Regions from separate parts of the Homo sapiens genome. Here region 1 is linked to region 2. A link means that fine-mapping ties the variant in region 2 to the plasma level of a protein whose gene starts in the linked region. Region 2 holds a variant in brackets. A gene starts in the other region. All regions are shown on their forward strands. Region 1 holds the start of APOF (apolipoprotein F). Region 2 has its middle 11 kb from the start of PDIA3.

The links. A credible set is the group of variants that fine-mapping cannot tell apart. PIP is the posterior inclusion probability: the model's chance that the variant is causal. Protein levels are from antibody-based Olink assays in UK Biobank. Linkage for the fine-mapping came from a reference panel and not from the study's own genotypes, which makes the PIPs less certain.
Region 1: APOF starts here. The variant in region 2 is the best candidate, but not a certain one, in a credible set for the plasma level of the APOF protein (UK Biobank, PIP 0.64).

What each region holds. Positions count from the first base shown.
Region 1 is chr12:56,362,502-56,373,930 of GRCh38, forward strand. It overlaps APOF (apolipoprotein F), which reads right to left and starts at 356. Exons shown (of 2, transcript NM_001638.4): 1 at 229-356. The coding sequence starts at 244.
Region 2 is chr15:43,729,977-43,741,490 of GRCh38, forward strand. It overlaps the pseudogene RNU6-354P and the pseudogene CATSPER2P1. Among named protein-coding and RNA genes, the nearest start is that of PDIA3, 11 kb to the right of the region's middle. RefSeq lists enhancers at 5,518-5,597, 5,608-5,677, 5,758-5,807. The variant C/T (reference allele first, on the strand shown) is at 5,873.

The sequences.
Region 1 (11,429 bases), not on the chromosome of region 2:
CAGCCTAGTTCTGAACTTTGGGCTCAAGTGATCCTTCCACCTCCGCCTCCCAAAGTGATAGGCTTCCAGATGTGAGCCACCGCGCCTGGCCCCAAGCTTCTGTTCTTTTTAGGTAAAGGCCTAGGAAATAGGAAATGCACCCCAGTTGCTCCCACTTGGTCTCCCCCATTTACAGGTCACCAGGGACTTCTGTTTTATTTCCACCCATATATAGGGACCCCAAATTACCACACAGTCCAGTCATTGAGAAGTGAGACTGCCTTGGTAGGTTTGATCGCTTCCTGATCCTGTTCTGCCTAGTTCTGTGTCCCATGAGGAAAGGAGATATTTGCTTTCCCCTATGATCAGTGAAGGATGTAATCTCTGCAAATATTTGCCCATTTATACTGGCTGCTCAAACCTTGTGCCCCTTGTCACACACTCAACCTCTATGCCTACAGTCCTGTTCTTTGGCATTTCCTGTATGTCCCTGCCACATTCCCACTCTAAGCTCATGATAGGAGCCAGGGAAATTCAGAATTAGGAAAGATGAGATGTTTGTGATACTCTCATTTCTCTTCATTTTAAAAATTAAATTAGCGGCTGAGCATGGTGGCTCACGCCTGTAATCCCAGCACTTTGGGAGGCCAAGGCGGGCGGATCACAAGGTCAGGAGTTCGAGACCAGCCTGGCCAATATGGTGAAACCCTGTCTCTACTAAAAAAAAAAAAATATATATATATATATATATATATATACACCCAGGCGTGGTGGTGGGCGTCTGTAGTCCCAGCTACTCAGGAGGCTGAGGCAGGAGAATTGCTTGAACCCGGGAGGTGGAGGTTGCAGTAAGCCAAGATCGCACTACTGCACTCCAGCCTGGGTGACAGAGTGAGACTCCGTCTTAAAAAAAAAAAAGGAGGGGAGCTGACACCTACTAAGTGGAGAGGGGCAAGGCTAACACTGGTCACATATGTGTTTAAGGGAAGAGGTGAAATAAAGAGCATTCATCTGTCCTAAGTGGTCTCCAACATTTCTAACTACTTACTGTGTGCCATCCTTGAATACAGTCCTGGGAAAGGAGACTCATTACTTATGTGATATTGAATAGCTGAAATGAGCCGGGATCAATTCCTGGATCATTTTCCTCACAAAGCACTTCAGAATAGCTGTGGAACATTTGATAGATTATATTGTCACTGTCCATGGACAATTTAAATGATCTTGAGAGCTTCTTCAACTTTTTGCCTAATTCTTCAATATGCTCCCAAGACTCATACCTGCAGTTCTTGGTGATGTGGACACCCAAAACTTTGAACTGTGACACCAAGCATCATGGGAGATGGTTTCTCAGCAAACTCAATCACCATCTGAGCTACCTGGTAGGCCAGCTACCCCAGTGGGTATATTTGCCACCATCCATACATTTCCCAGGATGGGCAGCTGGGTGCTGGGTTTATTCACACTTCCCTAAGGGACTACTAGATTCGTCACAATGATGTTGGTATTGCCTTCCTCCCCATTGAACTTTTTGACTCTCACGGATGAGGGTTTCAGTGGTATCCTTTCCTCGCATCTGAAACTGCAGAACATGGGCCTCAGTTGGGCAGCCCACCTCCTCCAAGGGCACCCTCAGAGCTAAGTTGGACAGGTACTCAGGCAGAGGGGCTAGGGAGGGGGCTGTGTGTAAGAGATCTTGGCAGATCCTGGGATCTGGGAGAGGAATCTGGCTCTCCATGTTCTCCAAATAATGGAGAGCATGTTTGATGGATGCCCAGTCTCTGTTAAAGATGGCTGGAGGGTCAGAGTCTCATTCTGAGCATTTCTTGGAAAGGCAGACACCAGGGACAGCAGGACACAGCAAAGCAGCAGCACAGCTTGGACCATGGGGGGACAGCAGAGCAGCCCTGCTGGAAGGAAGCAGTGCTCAGGTTGGGAAGTGGAGAAAGGCTCAGGACAAAGAGACACCAAGACTGGCCAGAGCTAGAAAGTGTCTTAGCTCTTGGAAACTTCGGTTGCCCTGAGCACACCTCATCTTCACTCTTAAAGGATGTGGGTGATCCTCCTATTTTGAGGAGAAACAAGTCAGAGGAAAAAAACAGTCCAAACATCTCATTTGCTTTGGTATCTTCATGACCTGAATTACTATTATTGTTGTTGTTGCTGTTTTTAATCTGCCCTTTCCCAGAATCACAAGGAAACCAGAAAGTTGATGGCTTCCAAAACAGTGAAGGACAAAACATTTGCAAATATTTATGCATCTCTTCCCAGCCCAGACTTTGTCCTTCTCACCTTTGACCCATACTGACAAACTGACCTTTCCCCTTTTAGGCCCTGCAGTCCTGTCCCATATCTTTTTTTTTTTTTCTTTTTCTTTTTCTTTTCCTTTTTTTTTCTGGAGACACAGTCTCACTCTGTTGCCCAGGGTAGAGTGCAGTGGCACGATCACAGCTCACTGCAACCTCCACATCCCGGGTTCAAGCGATTCTTGTGTCTCAGTCTCCCTAGTAGTTGGGATTACAGGCACGCACCACCATGCCTGGCAAATTTTTGTTTTGTTTTGTTTTCTGGAGACAGTCTCACTCTGTTGCTCAGGCTGGAATGCAATGGCGTGATCTTGGCTCACTGCAACCTCCACTTCCCAGGTTCAAGAGATTCTCTTGCCTCAGCCTCCCGAGTAGCTGGGACTACAGGTGTGCGCCACCACGCCTAGCTAATGTTTTTGTATTTTTAGTAGAGATGGAGTTTCACCATGTCAGTCAGGCTGGTCTCAAACTCCTGACCTCGAATGATCTGCCTGCCTCGGCCTCCCAAAGTGTTGGGATTACAGGCGTGAGCCACGGCACCCAGTGACATATCTTTTCTATCCTAAGGTTTTACCCTAAACCTATATTTGAGCTGAGGAAAAGGTCCTCCGTATCTTCTTGAGGGGAGAAAGGGTAAGGCAGAATAGCTGGTGATCTCTGGGACCCCTAAACCATTTTTCTTTTCTTTTTTTTTCTGAGACGGAGTTTCGCTCTTGTTGACCAGGCTGGAGTGCAATGGCGCGATCTCAGCTCACTGCAACCTCCGCCTCCCAGGTTCAAGTGATTCTCCTGCCTCAGCCTCCCAAGTAGCTGGGATTACAGGCGTGTGCCACCATTCCCGGCTAATTTTGTATTTTTGGTAGAGACGGGGTTTCTTCATGTTGGCCAGGCTGATCTTGAACCCCTGACCTAAGGTGATCTGCCCACCTTGGCCTCCCAAAGTGCTGGGATTACAGGCTTGAGCCAGCCACAGCGCCTGGTCACCATTTTTCTTATTAAAAGAATATATTGGTTGGGAAGCCAAGGCAGGCAGATGGCTTGAGCCCAGAAGTTTGAGACCAGCCTAGGCAACATGGCGAAAGCCCCGTCTCTACAAAAATTATAAAAATTAGCCAGGAGTGGTGGCATGCACCTGTAGTCCCAGCTACTGGGGAGGCTGAGGTGGGAGGATCACCTGAACCTGGGGAGGTCAAGGCTGCAGTGAGCCATGATTACACCACTGCACCATCCAGACTGGGTGACAGAGCGAGACTTTGTCTGAAAAAGAGAATATACTGGATGGGAGTCCAGGGAAACTGGACAGATTGACAAATAAGACAAAATCAGAGCAACTTTTTTTTTCTTTTTTAGAGTCCAGTCCAGGTATTGCTCTATCTCCCTGGCTGGAGTACAGTGGCCTGATCATGGCTCACCACAGCGTTTAACTCCTGGGTTCAAAAGATCCTCCTGCCTCAGCTTCTCAAGTAGCTGTGACTACTGGTGTGCACCACCATGCCTAGCTAAAATTTTTTTTTTTTTTTTTTGTAGAGATGAGGTTTCACTATGTTTCCCAGACTGGTCTTGAACTCTTGGTCTCAAGCAGTCCTCCCACCTCAGCCTCCCAAAGTGCTGTGATTAGAGGCATGAACCACTGCACCTGGTTTATTTTTCACTTTTCTAATTCCAATGCAAAACACAAATAAAACATGTCCATCAGCTGAGCAGTAACTTTCCAAATCTAACCAAAACTCCAGGAATTAGGCTTTATCTTGGGTTTAGGGGTAACATTAGTCCAAAAATTAGGGAAATAAGACATCTGATGCCTCCTAAAAATGGTACCAGTTCCTACATATCATTATGGCCTAAAGTTTCCTCTGATGTCACTCACCTCAGGCACATGGCCAAAGGGACTAGGCCAATGGCAGGGTCCAGGGTCCCTCCCTCTATTTTTTTCGGTTCTTTCAGTTCCCAGGAGTGGCCCCTGACAACTAAGAGCAAAGACAGAAGCAGAGGAGTAAGTCTCCAGGGACACAGTGCCAACTTAGAAACAGCAAGAACTAAGTGGAAAGGAGTCCAACACTGTCTGAAATTACTAGACCCCAAACCCCTGGGGAATCCCTAAGACAATATATATACATATACCTACATGGATAAAATATACGTACACACACATACACGTATACCAGGCTGGAGTGCAGTTGGTACAATCACAGCTCACTGCAGCCTTGAACTCCCAAGCTCCAGCAATCCTCCCACCTCGGACTCCTATATATCTGGGACTTCAGGCACGTACCACCACACCTGGCTAATTTTTAAAATTTTCTTGTAGAGAAGGGAACTCACTATGTTGGCCAGGCTGGTCTCGAGCTCCTGGGCTCAAGGGATCCTCCTGTCTAGGCCTCCCAGAGTGCTGAGCCACTGCACCCAGCCTCCTAGGACTCTATAGTTTCTGTGTAGCAACACTAGAAGGAGTGAAAGATTTAATCCTTGTCTCCTAAGATCTATCACAAAGCAGAAATATCCATTCTTACCAGTTTTTCCTCATTGTACTGGAAGTTCTAACCAGTGTAATGTGGAAAGAATAAAAAATAAATGGCATAAAACTAGAAAGGAAGATGTAGAACGATATTTATTTAAATACAACATAGCTCTGGCTGGCTCAGTCGGTAGAACATGAGACTCTTAAAAACAACATGGGGGCTGGGCGCAGTGACTCACGCGTGTAATCCTAGCATTTTGGGAGGCTGAGACGGGCAGATCACGAGGTCAGGAGTTCAAGACTAGCCATGGCCAGCATGGTGAAATCCCGTCTGTACTAAAAGTACAAAAAATTAGCCAGGCATGGTGGTGCGCACCTGTAATCCCAGCTACTCGGGAGGCTGAGGCAGGAGAATCACTTGAACCCGGGAGGCAGAGATTGCAGTGAGCCGAGATCTCGCCACTGCACTCCAGCCTGGCAACAGAGTGAGAGTCTATCTAAAAAAAAAAAAAAAAAAAAAAACCAGCAACAACAAAAAAACAAAAAAAAGACATGGGGCGGGGCTTGAGACCAGGAGTTCGAGACCAGCCTGGCCAACATGGTGAAACCCCATCTTTACAAAAAATAAAAAACACAGCCAGGGGTGGTGGTGTGCATCTGTAGCCCCAGCTACTCGGGAGGCCGAGGCAGGAGAATTGCTTGAACCCAAGAGGGGGAGGTTACAGTGAGCTATGATTCTGCCACTGCACTCTAACCTTGGTGACAGAGTGAGACCATGTCTCAAAAAGTAATAATAATAAAATTTAAAAAAGTAATACAAAATAAAAACAACATGGACTAGGCATGGTGGCTCACACACTTTGGGAGGCCAAAGTCCAGGAGTTCAAGACCAGCCTGGGCAGCATAGGGGAGACCCTGTTTCTGCAAAAAAAAAAAAAAAAAAAAAAAAAATTAGCCAGCTCAGCTGTCCAGCTGTGGTGGCACACGCCTGTAGTCTCAGTTTCTCAGGAGGATCACTTGTGCCCAGGAGGTTGAGGCTTCAGTAAGCTGTGATCGTACCACTGAACTCCAGTCTGGGTGACAGAGGGAGACCCTGTCTCAAATAAATAAATAAATAAATAGATAGATAGATAGATAAATAAAATAATAATTAAAAAATAAAAAATTAAAAGAAACAATGTGATTGTTTATGCATAAATCCTAAAGAATACAATTTTAAAAGGACCAATAAGTTAATTTAGCAAGGTGACAAGATAAAATATTAATATATAAATGAATTCTATTTCTGTAGTCTAAAAACATACATTGAATGTTAACTTAGGGCCGGGTGCGGTGGCTCACACCTGTAATCCTAGCACTTTGGGAGGCCAAGGTGGGTGGATCACGAGGTCAGGAGATCAAGACCATCCTGGCTAACACAGTGAAACCCTGTCTCTACTAAAAATACAAAAAATTGGCCAGGCGCGGTGGCTCACACCTGTAATCCCAGCACTTTGAGATGCTGAGTCGGGTGGATCACAAGGTCAAGAGTTCAAGACCACCCTGGCCAACATGGTGAAACCCCATCTCTACTAAAAATACAAAAATTAGCTGGGCGTGGTGGTGTGTGCCTGTAATCCCAGCTACTCAGGAGGCTAAGGCAGGAGAATCGCTTGAACCTGGGCTGCAGAGGTTGCAATGAGCCGAGATCGCGCCACTGCACTCCAGCCTGAGTGATAGAGTGAGACTCCATCTCAAAGAAAAGAAAGAAAAAAATTTAGCTGAGTGTGGTGGTGGGCGCCTGTAATCCCAGCTACTCGGGAGGCTGAGGCAGGAGAATCGCTTGAACCCGGGAGGCGGAGGTTGCAGTAAGCCAAGATCGCGCCACTGCACTTCAGCCTAGGCAACAGAGCAAGACTCTGTCTCAAAAAAAAAAAAAAGAAAATTAACTTAGAAAATTCCAGCTGGTTACCATGGCTCAAGCTTGTAACACCTGGACTTTGGGAGGCTGAGGTGGGACGATTGCTTGAGGGTAGCAATTTGAGACCAGCTTTGGCAACATAGTGAGACCCTGTTTCTACAGAAAAATAAAATGAAAAAAAAAATTCCAATTACAATAGTGTTTAAAATAAACAAGTAAAATTCCTAAAAGAAGAAACAAGACAAGGATGCTCACTCTTGCTACTTCTATTCAACATTGTACTGGAGGTTCCAGCCAGAGTAATTAAGCAAGACAATGAAATAAAATGTACCCGATTAGAAAGGATGAAGTAAAACAACCTATATTAGTGGGTAGCATGATGTTGCATATTAAAAAAACTCAAACTTACACACACATAGACACACACACACAAAATAAGTACTAATAAATGGGTTCAGCTAAGTTGCAGGATACACTATCAATACACGAAAATCGATGATATCTCTATATATGTGCAATGAATAATTTGAAAATGAAGTTAAGAAAATTGCATTTATAATAGCAGCTATAAGTGTAAAACTTGTACATTGAAAACTACATGGGTGGGGGGAGGGGGAGGGATAGCATTAGGAGATATAGCTAATGTTAAATGATGAGTTAATGGGTGCAGCACACCAAGATGACATATGTATACATATGTAAAAAACCTGCACGTTGTGCACATGTACCCTAAAACTTAAAGTATTAAAAAAAAAAAGTCAAAGAAAAAAAAGAGCTCTCATCATTTAGAGATTCATACTGAAATACTTATGGATGAAAATATATTATTTGCTTGAAAATGGTGGAGGTGAGAAAATGTGGAGTATATGACTATGAATTGATAATTCTTGGAATTAGGTGATGAGAAATAGGTGTTTAATAGACTATTTTCTCTACTTTTTTATATATTTGAAATTTTCCATAATAAAAAGGTTTTTTTTTAAAAGAAAAGAAAACTACAAAACATTACTAAAAGAGATTAAAGGAGACTAAAGAAGATTAAAGAATGAGTTAAACCCAAAACTATTATAAGGAAGGAAATAATAGAGATTAGAGAAGAGATAAATAAAACAGAGAATACCTTTAGGCACAAATACTTGTGAAAAAATTAAAAATAGGCCCGGCAAGGTGGCTCATGCCTGTAATCCCAGCACTTTGGGAGGCTAAGGTGGGTGGATCACGAGGTCAGGAGATCGAGACCATTCTGTTAACACTGTGAAACCTCATCTCTACTAAAAATACAAAAAATTAGCTGGGCTTGGTGGCACACGCCTATAGTCCCAGCTACTCGGGAGGCTGAGGCAGGAAATTGCTTGAACCCAGGAGGTGGAGGTTGCAGTGAGCCGAGATCGTACCACTGCACTCACTCCAGCCTGGGCGACAGAGCAAGACTCCGTCTCAAAAAAAAAAAAAAAAAAAAAAAAAATTGTCTGGGCGCAGTGGCTCACACCTATAATCCCAGCACTTTGGGAGGCCAAGGCAGGTGGATCATCTGAGGTCAGGAGTTCAAGACCAACCTGGCCAACATGGTGAAATCCCGTCTCTACTAAAAATATAAAAATTAGCTGTGGTGGTGCATACCTGTAATCCCAGCTACTTGGGAGGCTAAGGCAAGAGAATTGCTTGAACCTGGGAGGTGGAGGTTGCGGTGAGCCAAGATCATGCCACTGCACTCCAGCCTGGGCAACAGAGCTAGACTCTGTCTCTAAATAAATAAATAAATAAAACAAAAAAACAAAAATTAGCCAGGCATGGTGGCAGATGCCTGTAACCCCCGTTACTTGAGAGGCTGAGGCAGGAGAATCACTGGAACAGGGGAGGCAGAGGCTTCACACCACTGCACTCCAGCCTGAGTGACAGAGGGAGACTCTGTCTCAAAATAATAATAAATAAATAAATAAATAATAATACAGATAAGAGAAAAACAATTGAGAAAATCAGTGCAACCAAAAGTTGGTTCTTCAAATAGATGAACAAAATTGACAAACCTTTAGCTACACTAACAACAAAAAAAGATAAAAAGACTCAAATTATTAAAGTTAAAATGAAAGTGGGAACATTACATTTTACAAAAATTAAAAGAATTATAAGAGTAATTAAACAATTACATGCCAACAAATTGGATAATCTAGATGAAATGAACAAATTCCTAGAAACATATATCTTACCAAGACTAAATCATGAAGTAATAGAAAATTTGAATTAAAGATATTGCATCAATAATCAAAAATCTCCCCAAAATGAAAAGCCCTGGACCAGATGGCTTCACTGGTGAATTCTGCCAAACATTTGAAGGAGAATTAATGCTAATGCTTCTCAAACTTTGCCAAAAGATCAAAGAGAAGGAACATTTCCTAACTCATTCCAGGGGTGAGCATTACCCTGATACCAAAGGCAGACATACACTAGGAAAAAAGAAAACATACACCAATATCTCCTATGAATACTGATGCAAAAATCCTCAACAAAATGCCAGCAAGCCAAATTTAGCAATGTATTAAAAGGATTATACACTGTGGGATTTATTCCTGGAATATAAAGGTGGCACAGTGTACGAAAAACAATCAATATAATTCACCACATTAACAGAATGAAGGAGAAAAATCATACAATCATCTTAATTGATGCAGAAAAAGCATTTGACAAAATTCAACACCCTTTCATGATGAAAACATTTAACAAACCAGGAATAAAAGGAAACTACCTCAATATAATAAAAGGCATGTATGAGAAAGTCATAACAAACATTATATCATACTCAATGGTGAAAGATTAAAGGCTATTCTGCTAATATCAGGAACAAGAAAAGGATGCCCACTTTTGCTAGTTCCATTCAACATAGCCCTAAAAGTTCTAGCCAGAGCAATTAGGCAAGAAAAGGAAATTAAAGGCATCCAGGTTGAAAAGGAAGAAGTGCAATTATCTCTTGTTCTTATGAATTTTTTTTTTTTTTTTTTTGGTGACGGAGTCTTGCTCTGTCGCCAGGCTGGAGTGCAGTGGCTCCTTCTGGGCTCACTGCAACCTCCGCCTCCCGGGTTCAAGCGATTCTTCTGCCTCAGCGTCCTGAGTAGCTGGGACTACAGGCACACACCACCACGCCCGGCTACTTCTTATGATTTTATATGTAGAAAACCCTAAAGATTTCACACAAAAAACTATTAGAACTGATAAATGAATTCAGCAAATTAGTGGATTACAAGTCAAGAAACAAGAACCACTTGCATCTCTACATATTAACAATGAGCCATTTGAAAATAAAATTTTGAAAACAATCCCATTTACAATAGGATAAAAATAAAATACTTAGGAATTAATTTATCCAAGGAGTTAAAAGGTTTATACAATGAAAACTATAAAACATTGCTGAAAGAAATTAAAGGAGATATAAATACATGAAAATGCATTCCATGTCCATGGATTAGAAGACTTACTATTGTTAAGAGGCCAACAGTACCCAAAGTGATCCACAGATTCAACGCAATCCCTATCAAAATCTCAATCATGTTTTTTTGCAGAAATTGAAAAGCCCATCCTAAAATTCATATAAAATCTCAAGGGACCCCAAATAGACAAAACAATATTGAAAACGAACAACTTCCTGATATCACAACTTACTGCAAAGCTACTATAAATCAAAACAGTGTGATATTGGCATAGCAGCAGACATATAGACCAATGGAATAGAATAGAGAGCCCAGAAATAAACTCTTGCATATATGGTCAAATGATTTTTGACAAGAGTGCCAAGACTATTTGATGAGGGAAAAGACAACCTTTCTAACAAATGTTGCCATAGGAAACTGGTATCTACCTGCAAAAAGATGAAGTTGAACCATGATTTAACACTATACAAATATTAACTCAAAATAGATCTAAAATCTAAATATAAGAGCTAAAACTATGAAGCTCTTAGAAGAAAACATAGAGGCCGGGCACGGTGGCTCATGCCTGTAATCCCAGCACTTTGGGAGGCCGAGGCGGGCAGATCATGAGGTCAGGAGATCGAGACCATCCTGGCTAACACAGTGAAACCCTGTATCTACTAAAAATACAAAAACAAAATTAGCCGGGTTTGGTGGTGGGTGCCTGTAATCCCAGCTACTCAGGAGGCTGAGGCAGGAGAATGGCATGAACCCGGGAGGCAGAGCTTGCAGTGAGCCAAGATTGCGCCACTGCACTCCAGCCTGGGCGACAGAGCAAGACTCCATATCAAAAAACAAACAAACAAACAAACTAAAAAACACAGGGCAAAATCTTCATGACATTGAATCTGGCAATGATTACTTGGATATAACACCAAAGACACAGGCAGCAAAAGAAAAAAATGGGCAAATTGGACCTCATGAAAATTTTAAAATTTTGTACACCAAAAGACAATATCAACAGAGTAAAAAGGCAATCCACAGAATGGGAGGAAATATTTGCAATTATATACCTAGTAAAGATTTATATCCAGAATAAATAGAGAACTCCTAAAACTCAACAAAAACAAAAATGGCCTGACTCAAAATGGGCAAAGGGCATGAACAGGCATTTCTCTAAGGAAGCTATACAGATGGCCAATAAGGACATGAAAAGATGTGCAACATCTCTAATCATTAGGGAAATGCAAATTAAAACTACAATGAGATACTATCTCACACCCACTAGGATAGCTATTATTTTTAAAAAGAGAAAACGACAAGTGTTGTCAAAGATGTGGAGAAAATGGAACCCTTGTGCTTTGTTGTTGGGAATGCAAAATGGT
Region 2 (11,514 bases):
CTTAGGAGCTTTGCACTAGCTGTTTCATCTGCCTATTAACACTCTTCTTACAGATATCCACATGGTAATCCCTTTACCTCCTTCGAGTCTTTGCTCACATTACCTTTTCAATGAGGTCACCGTGACTACCCTGTTTAAAACTACAACCCATCTGCGGCTGGGCACGATAGCTCACGCCTGTAATCCTAACACTTTTGGAGGCTGAGGCGGGTGGAGTGCCTGAGCTCAGGAACTTGAGACCAGCCTGGGCAACATGGTGAAACCTCGTCTCTACTAAAATACAAAAAAATAAACAAATAAATTAGCCAGGCATGGTGGCAGGCACCTGTAGTCCCAGCTATTTGGGAGGCTGAGGCAGGAGAGTCGCTTGAACCCAGGAGGCGGAGGTTGCAGTGAGCCGATATATCGTGCCACTGCACTCCACAGCCTGGTGACAGAGCGAGACTCTGTCTCAAGAAAAAAAAACTACAACCCATCTGCAATCCCACCTTATACTCCCAATCTCCCTTAACCTGTTCTACTTTTAACTTTCCCATAATGCTTATCATATTTTAACAGATTACTTAATATATTCACTGCTTATTATCTCTTTACCACTACTAATATGTAAGCTCCATGAAGCAGGCATTATTGTCTATTTTGTTCACTGATAACATCCCAAGCACCTACTAAGTATTCAATAATTATTTGTTCTTTATTGTTTTTGTTTGTTTTTTTTGAGACAGGGTCTTGCTCTGTCACCCAGGCTGCAGAGCAGTGGCACAATCACGGCTCACCACAGCCTCAACCTCTCAGCTCAAGCAGTCCTCCCACCTCAGCCTCCTAAGTAGCTGGGACCACAGGAACACACCACCACATCCAGCTAATTTTTGTTCGCAGAGACAGGATTTTGCCATATTACCTAGTTTAGTCTTGAACTCCTGAGCTCAAGTCATCTGCCCACCTCAGTTTTCGAAAATGCTGGTATTATAGGCATGAGTGCCCATGCCCACCCTGCTAAATTTTTGAGATGGGATCTTGCTCTGTTGCCCAGGCTGGAGTATAGTGGTGCAATCATGTCTCAATGCAGCCTTGAACTTCTGGCTTGAACTTCAAGCAATCCTCTTGCCTTCACCTCTCAAAGTGTTGGGATTACAAGTGTAAGCCACCACATCCACCCAGTAATTATTTGTTAATGAGTGAATGAGTTTACTTCTGCTTCTGCTTTTTTTGTCCACTGCTAAACACTTGGGGTCTAGAATCATATCTGTTTCATGGAAGGTATTTGTATTAGTGTCCTGTGGCTGCCATAACAAATTACTATAAACTTGGTAGCTTAAAATGACAGAAATATATTCCGTCACAATTCTAGAGGCTAGAGTCTGAAATGAAGGTGTTGGCAGGGCCATATTCCCTCTGGAGGCTTTAGGGGAGAAGTTCCTTGCCTCTTCTACCTTCTGGCAGCTGCCTGGCATTCCTCAGCTTCCCTTGGCTTGTGGCGGCATTAACCCTAACCTCTATCTCCGTCTTCACATCGCCTTCTCCTATTCTCTGTGTCTTCTCCTCTTTCAACTCTTATAAGTACCCTTGCCATTGGATTTAGGACCTACCTGGATAATCTAGGATGATCTCATCTCAAGATCCTTAACTTAGGATCTTTTTTTTTTTCCAAATAAGGTCACATTCACAGGTTCCAGGGAGCAAAGACATGGACATATTATTTCGGGTGCCACTAGTCAACCTACTACAATATGCAGTTATTAAATGAATGAATTATCTCTCAAAGCCAATCTTCATCTTTAGTTTTCCACCCTCTCCTCCTTCATGTGTTTCTATCCCAGTTCACATACATACTCCTAACCTGGCATCTATTTTGCTGTGGCTTGACCTCAGTGCCTCACGTGACATGTTTTTTTCTCCTGCAAAGCAAAAAAAAAAAAGAAAAAAAAAAGAAAAAAGAGCAAAGACAGTTATATTCAAGCAAAAGTGTGGTAAGAAAAAAAGAGTTCATATCAGAAAGTGAAGAAAACTAATTGGGGAGAACAAATTGTAGTCACGGGGTGAAAAAAATGGAGGACTCCCCACAGTGGATGAAGAATCAGGCAATATTCTAGAGCTGGAGAATTCTTATCCTTGGGGGCAAATCTACTGTCACAAAGGGAAAAGTGGGGTCAAGGAGCAGAAACAAGAAATGAGCTCAGGAAACCCTTGAGAAGGAAAGTTGGGGTTGAAAAGGGAGAAGTAGATCTCTGGATGATCTGCCGCTTGAACATATCAGCTTTGAGCTGAACCTCCTGACATGCCATCTCCTCATGCAGCTCTTTCCTGATATTCTGCAAGTTAATGACTTCCCCAAAGGGCCATTAGGAGCTGGGAGATGGTAATGACTAGACTTGGGAAGAGGGCTTGGGTGGGGAGAATCCAAGTGAAATATCCAATCCAGAACCCAAGCCTTCCTGCTACACTAGGTTCTTTATACCCATAAGCCACCAATCCCAGCTTTCAGAATAACTTTTTCCCAACCACACTTCCCAAACAAGTTTCACCTCCTCTATGCTTACCCATCATGGCTACTATGATACTTCGAAAGATAATGGAGCCAAGCAACAACCAAAGGATGAAATAGATGCTGCTGAAGATGCGACTGACTTCAGGCACCTTCCAGACGTCCTGAAGCAGTGCATACCAATGATCCAAGGTGAAGAGAATGAACACTGTTACCAGGGAATTCGGGAGGTCCCTAAAGAAAAAAGCATGTGAATAGACGGAAGCAGAGACCTAAACCTTTCAAAAATGGTATCATTCCTACTTTCAAAGAAACATAAAGCATTTCTTTGTAGTTTGTTCTGATTTTGGCTCCTTTTCTACCATACTGTTTTTAGCTAATCATTCTTGTTTGAAGTTGTTTTATTTTAATTTAATTTAATTTAATTTAATTTTTTTTGAGACAGAGTCTCGCTCTGTTGCCCAGGCTGGAGTGTAGTGGCACGATCTCAGCTCACTGCAACCTCCACCTCATGGGTTCAAGAGATTCTCGTCTCAGCCCCGCAAGGAGCTGGGATTACAGGCACGCACCACCACGCCCAGCTAATTTGTGTATTTTTAGTAGAGCCATCTCTACTAAACTTTTGTCATGTTGGCCAGGCTGGTCTCAAACTCCTGACCTAAGGTGATCCACCAGTCTCAGCCTCCCAAAATGCTAGGATTATAGGCGTGAGCTACCACACCCAGCCTAAATTCTCCTTTATCATGAATAATCTGTGACTACCTCTCACTACTCCATTAGTCCTGGGGTATAATAAATAATAAATAGGTATTGACTGAATTTTTTAAAGATGAATGAATTTTTAAAGATCAATTTTTTAAAGATGAATGAATCACCAACTAGATAGTTTTCTAATTTTTTTTTCTTTTTTTGAGACAGAGTCTCACTCTATCATCCAAGCTGGAGTGGCGTGATCTCAGCTCACTTCAACCTCTGCCCCCCAGGCTCAAGTGATTGTCTTGACTCAGCCTCCCGAGTAGTTGAGATTACAGGTGTGCACCACCATGCCCAGCTAATTTTCATATTTCATATTTTTAGTAGAGACAGGGTTTCACCATGTTGGCCAGGCTGGTCTTGAACTCCTGACCTCAAGTGATCTATCTGCCTGCCTCCACCTCCCAAGGTGCTGGGATTACAGATGTGAGCCACCATGCCCAGCGGTTTTTTCTAATTTTATTCTCCACTGCTCTATGGACTCCACTTAATAGAAGATCACTCGTAAATTTAGCAAAATTTAGCAAAATTAGCAAATTTAGCAAAATAGAAGATCATTCAAAAAATTATTCCTATTAGTTTGCTGGTATGAAATGATATGCAAGTAAATGGGTATGTTACATAAACATATGTGATCCTAAATAATGAATATATACAAATTATAAAATTAATAATATTTAAAAATTGCTAAAAAAGTAAAAAGTTTCCGGGAAGGTATCTAAATTTTCCTACCTTTCTTTTTAGTTCCCCATACACAATTTATTGAAAACATCAGAGCTTGTATAGGATAAATTCTAGGACTTTCCTAACTCAATACTCTTACAAAACTATCTGTTAGAGTCTAACAGAGTCCTGAGAGGCGCTGACCAGATTGAATTATAATTCATAAGCAAGATTATCTACTCTAAATTCAAGCTGATTTTCTTCTAGAAAACACTGATTAGTGAGGTTTTGTTAATATTTAAAAAATATGTAACACTTCATAAATTTGTGTTTCATCCTTGCACAAGGGCCATGCTAATCTTCTCTATATCGTTCCAATTTTAGTACATGTGCTGCCGAAGTGAGCACTGATTAGTGTTTTCTAGACAGAGATCAGGAATAGGCGTGTGCATGTGTAATATGTAGAGATTGGGATAAAACCAGTGATCATATTTGAGAATCATAGTAACATTAATTGATCACTTATAACGTGTTACATACTGTGCTAAGTGCTTAAATGCATTACCACATTTAACCCCACACTCTTATGAAGTAGCACTGCTATTATTCCCCCCACCTTTCTTTTTTTTTGAGACAGAATTTCACTCTTTGTAGCCCAGGCTGGAGTGCAGTGGCTCAATCTCAGCTCACTGCAATCTCCGCCTCCCTAGTTCAAGTGATTCTCCTGTCTCAGCCTCCCGAGTAGCTGGGATTACAGGCACCCACCACCATGCCCAGCTAATTTTGTATTTTTAGTGGAGACAGGGTTTCACCATGTTGGCCAGGCTGGTCTCGAACTCCTGACCTCAGGTGATCCACCCGCCTTGGCTTCTCAAAGTGCTGGGATTACAGGCGTAAGCCACCATGCCCAGCCTATTTCCATTTTTCTTTTCTTTTTCTTTTTTTTTTTTTTTTTGAGATGGAGTCTCGCTCTGTTGCCAGGCTGGAGTACAGTGGCATGATCTCGGCTCACTGCAATCTCTGCCTCCCAGATTCAAGCAATTCTCCTGCCTCAGCCTCCCGAGTAGCTGGGACTACAGGTGCAAGCCACCACGCCTGGCTAATTTTTGTATTTTTGGTAGAGATGGGTTTTCACCATGTTGGCCATGATAGTCTCGATCCCTTGACCTCATGATCCACCCGCCTCAGCCTCCCAAAGTGCTGGGATTTCAGGGGTGAGCCACTGTGCCTGGCCCCCAGTTTTCAAAAGACGTAACTGAGTCACAGAAACCAAGCTCAACCACTGGAGTGTACCGCTATTTAAAGATGCCTGATGACAGTGTGGTTTGAATTTGCAAAACCCAGAATAAACATGGAACTAGCTGCCCTAACCTCAAGATCAGAGCTAATACCATTCACTGTTCTTTTGCTTTCTCTTTCCCTCTCCCTATTGTGTTCTATTTCAGTTTCTTGGAATAGACTGTACTTTTTATATTACTATACTTTGGACAAGCTTCCTGGTCTCTTAGCCAAATTTTCTCCCCTCACTCAGCTGTCACTCAGCTCTGCTTACGAGAATACATGATACTCCAGGTCCTGACGAGGTAAATGGGTGTACTCTGAGAAGACGTAGACACCAGTCACAACAAAAATGTAGAAGATGAGCAGCAACATCAAGAGGAAAGTCATGCTCTAGAGGCCATAAACTCAAGTCAGATGTGGGCCAGACTAGGCTGATCTCCACCAACAGCCCAGTCAAGCCCACCTGGCAATCTCCCACCAAACCCTCTCTTGCACTGCTGAACCCAGTCATCTCTGAACCATGGCACCTGTCCCCAGCCCCTTCTCATCCAATAACATTTCACAGGACGTTTCATTGCCTTCTTTGACCCATCCAGATTTGTTTCATATTCTTTTTTTTTTTTTTAAACGGAGTTTCACTCTGTCGCCTAGGCTGGAGTGCAGTGGAGCAGTCTCGGCTCACTGCAACTT[C/T]CGCCTCCTGGGTTCAAGTGATTCTTCTGCCTCAGCCTCCTGAGTAGCTGGGATTACAGGCACACACCACCAAGCCCGGCAATTTTTTTTTTTTTTTTTTTGGTATTTTTAGTAGAGACAGGGTTTCACCATGTTGGTCAGGCTGGTCTCGAACTCCTGACCTCATGACCCATCCCCCTCGGCCTCCCAAAGTGCTGGGATTACAGGCATGAGCCACCGCACCCGGCCAATTTGTTTCATATTCTATGTTAAGCCCTCACATTTATCTACCTTGCCCCCTGCTTTAGCTTGCAACAGTCAAATCACCTTGAGGGCCCTGACCAGGACCAAAATAATAACTCGAATTTGACGGAATTGTGCAAGGAGTTTGAGAGACCTCAGCACCCGGCAGATCCTCAGAAGCTGAAGCCACACCGATTGGCCTGTTACCCCTACCAATACCACAACCTCGGGAAGCAGGGACTGTGGAAAACACACAGGTTATAAGTAAAATACACCCCAAGGCACCCAGGCAGAATTGCAGCTTCTTCATCTTATCCTCTTCATTGTTCCCTGGGCGTTATCCTTTGAATAGCATTCTCTGAGAAGTGCTTACTATTCAGCCTTTCTATATTAAGTTGCTTAAACACTATACTTCAACTTGTTCAGATATAAAAAGGGGGATAAAATTCATGGTTATTTAATTAGGTTGTTGTGGAGCATAAATGAGATAATGTAAGGAAAACACTTAAAATAGTGCTTGGCACTTAGTAAGTGCTCAGTAACCGGCAGATGCTCTTGTTGGCATTGATGTTGTAGTTAGTCTACTTTGCTCCTAATACCAACAACTCCTGCAATGATTGATGTTTAGTTTTAGGAAAAAAAAATCAAAAGAAAGAAGTTAAGTAAATTTTTGTTTCTTCCTATTATCATGTTAACTTGTTCTTTCGATTCACCTAGGCACATTCTTCATCCCACTAAACGAACCCTCAGGATCTCTATCCTTACCAACATGGTAACAACAAAGTCAAAGACATTCCAGGCACTCTTCCAGAAAACAGAAAAGTTGGATAGCCACTTAAGAAGGATCTCCAGGATGAAAATAAGCAAGATAAACCAAGCTGCCCCCTCCAAGGTCAGCTTCAATGGCCATAGTTTGGTATTTGTGGATTCCAGCAATTCTGTGAGGATAGAGCAAAGGAGGAATAAAAGTTAAGGAAGCTGGAAACCGAATGATGGAGAATGAACACACTTATAAACCACAGTTTTGCCCACTACTGTTCCATTTTTCTTCACACTGTGTTAAGAGTTAAGAGTTTCTCTTCTTAACACTGTTGCTTCAACCTGTGAAATACAGGGAAGGACAGAATTGACCATAAAACACAGCCACAACCAATCTGTTCATATAGTTATGTCTGCCCAGCTACAAGTCACTTGCGATCCACTCTGGGGCTCACACAGCTACTAAGAGACTACTCTCTTTAATTACCCCTACCTCCAACCCCCCACCCCCATCTACTGTACTGTTATCTCAGTCCCAAAGTTCACAAGAAAGCAATGGGTCTTGAGAACAGAATGAAAATACAGGGCCATGATATCTGAACTACTTTATAACGAATGTAGAAACAAGCCACAATCATTAGGGTATATCGAATTATAACAATAAATCACTTGGTTCTGTTAGCTTTCTTTTAAAACTTTTCCTTTCTTCCCTGCCTAAAATTGGTTTTGTTCTGCAAAGCAAATTGAATGCATACTTCCTCTCTAGAACCTTATTATTTACCAATTGCTATTCCTTAATTCATTGCCTTTCTCTTTCAACCTTCTTCATCTCTTTTATACAATTAATGGATGTATGCCATGCTCTAGAAAAAAAAACACTGAAATTAAAATGGCTTAAGAGCTAAATAGAAATCAACATTGTGGTGCTCTGGCTTTAAATTCATCCTGATGCTGAACTGGATCCAGACAAAAAGAACAGAACCATACTTCGATCATCCCTAGAATTTTACAGAGGTTGGCCCCTTCTAAAAACCAATGGGGTTACACTATACTTATTCCTATGCTTGTTTTGAGACAGAGTCTCACTCTGTCACCCAGGCTGGAGGAGTGCAGTGGCATAATCACAGTTCGCGGAAGCCTGGATCTTCCGGGCTCAAGAGCCTCTGGGTAACTGGGACCACAGGCACATGTCACCATGCCCAGCTAATTTTTTCTTTAAATTACTTGTAGAGATGGGGTCTCCCTATGCTGCCCAGGTTGGCCTCAAACTCCTGGGCTCAAGCGATCCTCCGGCCTTGGTCTCCCAAAGTGCTGGGGTTATAGGCATGAGCCACTGCACCCAGCACTCCTATGCTTATTTAGGCTCTGTACTTCTTCCGTAAGTTTTTCTTTCATGCACATTTCTCTAAGATGGACAATATTTCACATTTTAACATCCATGAAATTAGGATGCTTTTTTTTTTTTTTTTTTTTTTTGAGATGGAATCTCGCTCTGTTTCCAGGCTGGAGTGCAGTGGTGCAATCTCAGCTTACTGCAACCTCTGCCTCTGCGCCACCATGCCCAGCTAATTTTATTATTTTTGGTAGAGACGGGGTTTCACCATGTTGGCCAGGATGGTCTCTATCTCTAGACCTCGTGATCTGCCCACCTCGGCCTCCCAAAGTGAGGATGCATTTTACAACCAGCGATGTGTCCCAGTTTAATTGAGCATGATTTTTATTTCTTATTGGTAAACAGTGAATTTCACCATTGATGACAGCTTAAATTCAATAAAATACAAAATTTTTTCACTTAACAATAAATTCTAGCTCTCAGGAGCATGGGATTATATAATTAGAAAGAGCTGAGGACCACATTTGTGGCTGGAAAATAGAATGCTATAATTTTTATTCAGTTTTTGCCCTTGCAAAACAGGAACCCAAACAGAGCAATGAAGTAAAATAAGGCTCTTGTAAAGCAGAATATAGTTTTGAGTAGTTTAAAATAGTTTAAGTAGGGAAGTCCAAATTATAGAAGCAGTAGCACTTTTACTCTCTGGAAAAATGAATAATTTTATAGAAGCTAAACAAACCCAAGGAAGTTCAGAGGAACGAATAGCAGAAATTGCCTCAGCAGCACAGAATGTGCAGAAGTGACTGCCTCCACTCTACATCAAGTAATGTGTCCTCTCTGAAGATGAAAAATAACTTTTTAAAATTCTTGGAATTTTTCAGGCTGCTATAGCAAAGCAAAGGAGTCTTAATGGAAATAGAGACCAGGAGCCCAGTGAAGTCTACCCAGGAATCTTAGCCAGTGAAGTGAAGTAGCAGTGAACATCTATGTTTCAATATTCTTCTCAGGGTGACAGACAGTAGCCATTTGATCAAGCAAGTCAGGCAAATACATAATTCTGTTTTACAAGGTAGAGTTCACCATGAACAGTCATCTATTGCTACTCCCTATTCTAGAAAAACAACAGTAGGTCACCTCACAGAATACCAGGTAAATTCACATTGGTTTCAAGGAGTCCAATACTATAGGTGAGGAGAATAGTACACTGTAACAATAAACTGTTATGTAGATTTTGACATTTACAGTTTTAATATTTTTAGTAATGTTTTGGCTAGTTATATCCATCATGAAACAAGGAACACTGATGTTGAAACATAATTTCTTTCTTTCTTTTTTTTTTGAAATGGAGTCTCACTCAATCTGTTGCCCAGCTGCCATCTCAGCTCACTACAAACTCCGCCTCCCGGGTTCAAGCGATTCTTCTGCCTCAGCCTCCTGAGTAACTGGAACCATAGGTGCACATCACCATACCCACTGATTCTTGTATTTTTAGTAGAGATGGGGTTTCACCATGTTGGCCAGGTTGGTCTTGAACTCCTGACCTCAAGTGATCCGCAGGACTAGGCCTCCCAAATTGCTGGGATTACAGGCATGAGCCACATGCCCAGCCAGAAATACAATTTCATGAAGAGCATTAAGAGTGATAATTCTGGCTGGGCGCGGTGGCTCATGCCTGTAATCCCAGCTCTTTGGGAGGCCGAGGCGGGCGGATCACGAGGTCAGAAGTTCGAGACCATCCTGGCTAACATAGTGAAACCCCGTCTCTACTAAAAATACAAAAAATTAGCTGGGCGTGGTGGCGGGCGCCTGTAATCCTAGCTACTTGGGAGGCTGAGGCAGGAGAATGGCATGAACCCAGGGGGTGGAGCTTGCAGTGAGCAGAGATGGCGTCTCTGCACTCCAGCCTGGGAGACAGAGCAAGAGTCTGTCTCAAAAAAAAAAAAAAAAAAAAAAGAATGACAATTCTGCAAGTTTAATCTCAAGATGATCTTCATCAGATTCTATAAATTCCATTCATATGACCAAAAACTTTATATAGCACATCAAACCCTCTCTAGGACTTTAAAAGTCAATGTAAAAAATTGTAATCTTCAGGAATATGCCCACCTTTGGGAAAAAATTGTAATGATATTATACTTAGGTTTTATTTTATTTTTGATACAGAATCTTGCTCTGTCACCCAGGCTGCAGTGCACTGGTGAGATCATAGCTCACTGCTGCCTCAATCCCCTGGGCTCAAGTGATCCTCCCACCTCACCCTCCTAATATACTCAGTTTTTAATTTTAAGTAGAGATTGTCTACACTTGCAATGTGTTATTTTCTGACAAAGGCTTGCAAATGAGTCAAATCATTTTTTCTTTCTCATTATTTGAAACAAAATACAAGATTTTAAAAATAAGCCAATTGATGTTTAAAGTGCAAAACAGAGGCCAGGCACAGTGGCTCATGCCTGTAATCCCAGCACTTTGGGATGCCGAGGCGGGCGGATCACCAGGTCAGGAGATCGAGACCATCCTGGCTAACACAGTGAAACCCCATCACTACTAAAAATACACAAAATTAGCCAGGTGTGATGGCAGGGGCCTGTAGTCCCAGCTACTCGGGAGGCTGAGGCAGGAGAATGGCGTGAACCTGGGAGGCAGAGCTTGCAGTGAGCCGAGATCGTGCCACTGCACTCCAGCCTGGGTGACAGAGCGAGACTCCGTCTCAAAAAATAATAATAATAAAATAATAAAATTTAAAAAATAAAGTGCAAAACAGAATTACCAATATCCAGTTGTGGAAGTAGATTTTTTAAAGCCCTAACAGTTTAGATCGCTTTGTGATCTGGAAAAAAAATTTTAAGCCTAAAAAAAGTCTTAATGTTTATCATATGAATTAGTCTGTTCAAAGAAATCTGTTAATCACAAATAATTTCCCTCTGCAAAATCCCTCCTCCGTTTCTCCCACAAGAATAAACTTAATAAGATAAAATTTCCACGAGCTTGCCAGATAATTTCTAGTCTGGCAATCTACTTATCCTCTGACACAGTGATCATGTTTCATATTCAGTTAACTGTTTTACCAAATAGAATAGTTAGTGCTATTCTATTTTGATTTGTCTATTAGATCTAGGGCAGGGGTCCCAAGCCCCAGGCTACGGACTGGTACCAGTCCATGGTCTGTTAGGAACCCGGCCATGCAGCAGGAAGTGAGTGGTGGGTGAGTGAGCATTACCGCCTGAGCTCCACCTCCTGTCAGATCAGCTGCGGCATTAGATTCTCATAGGAGGGCAAGCCCTATTGTGAACTGCATGTGCGTGACCCTTAGGAGAATCTAATGCCTGAT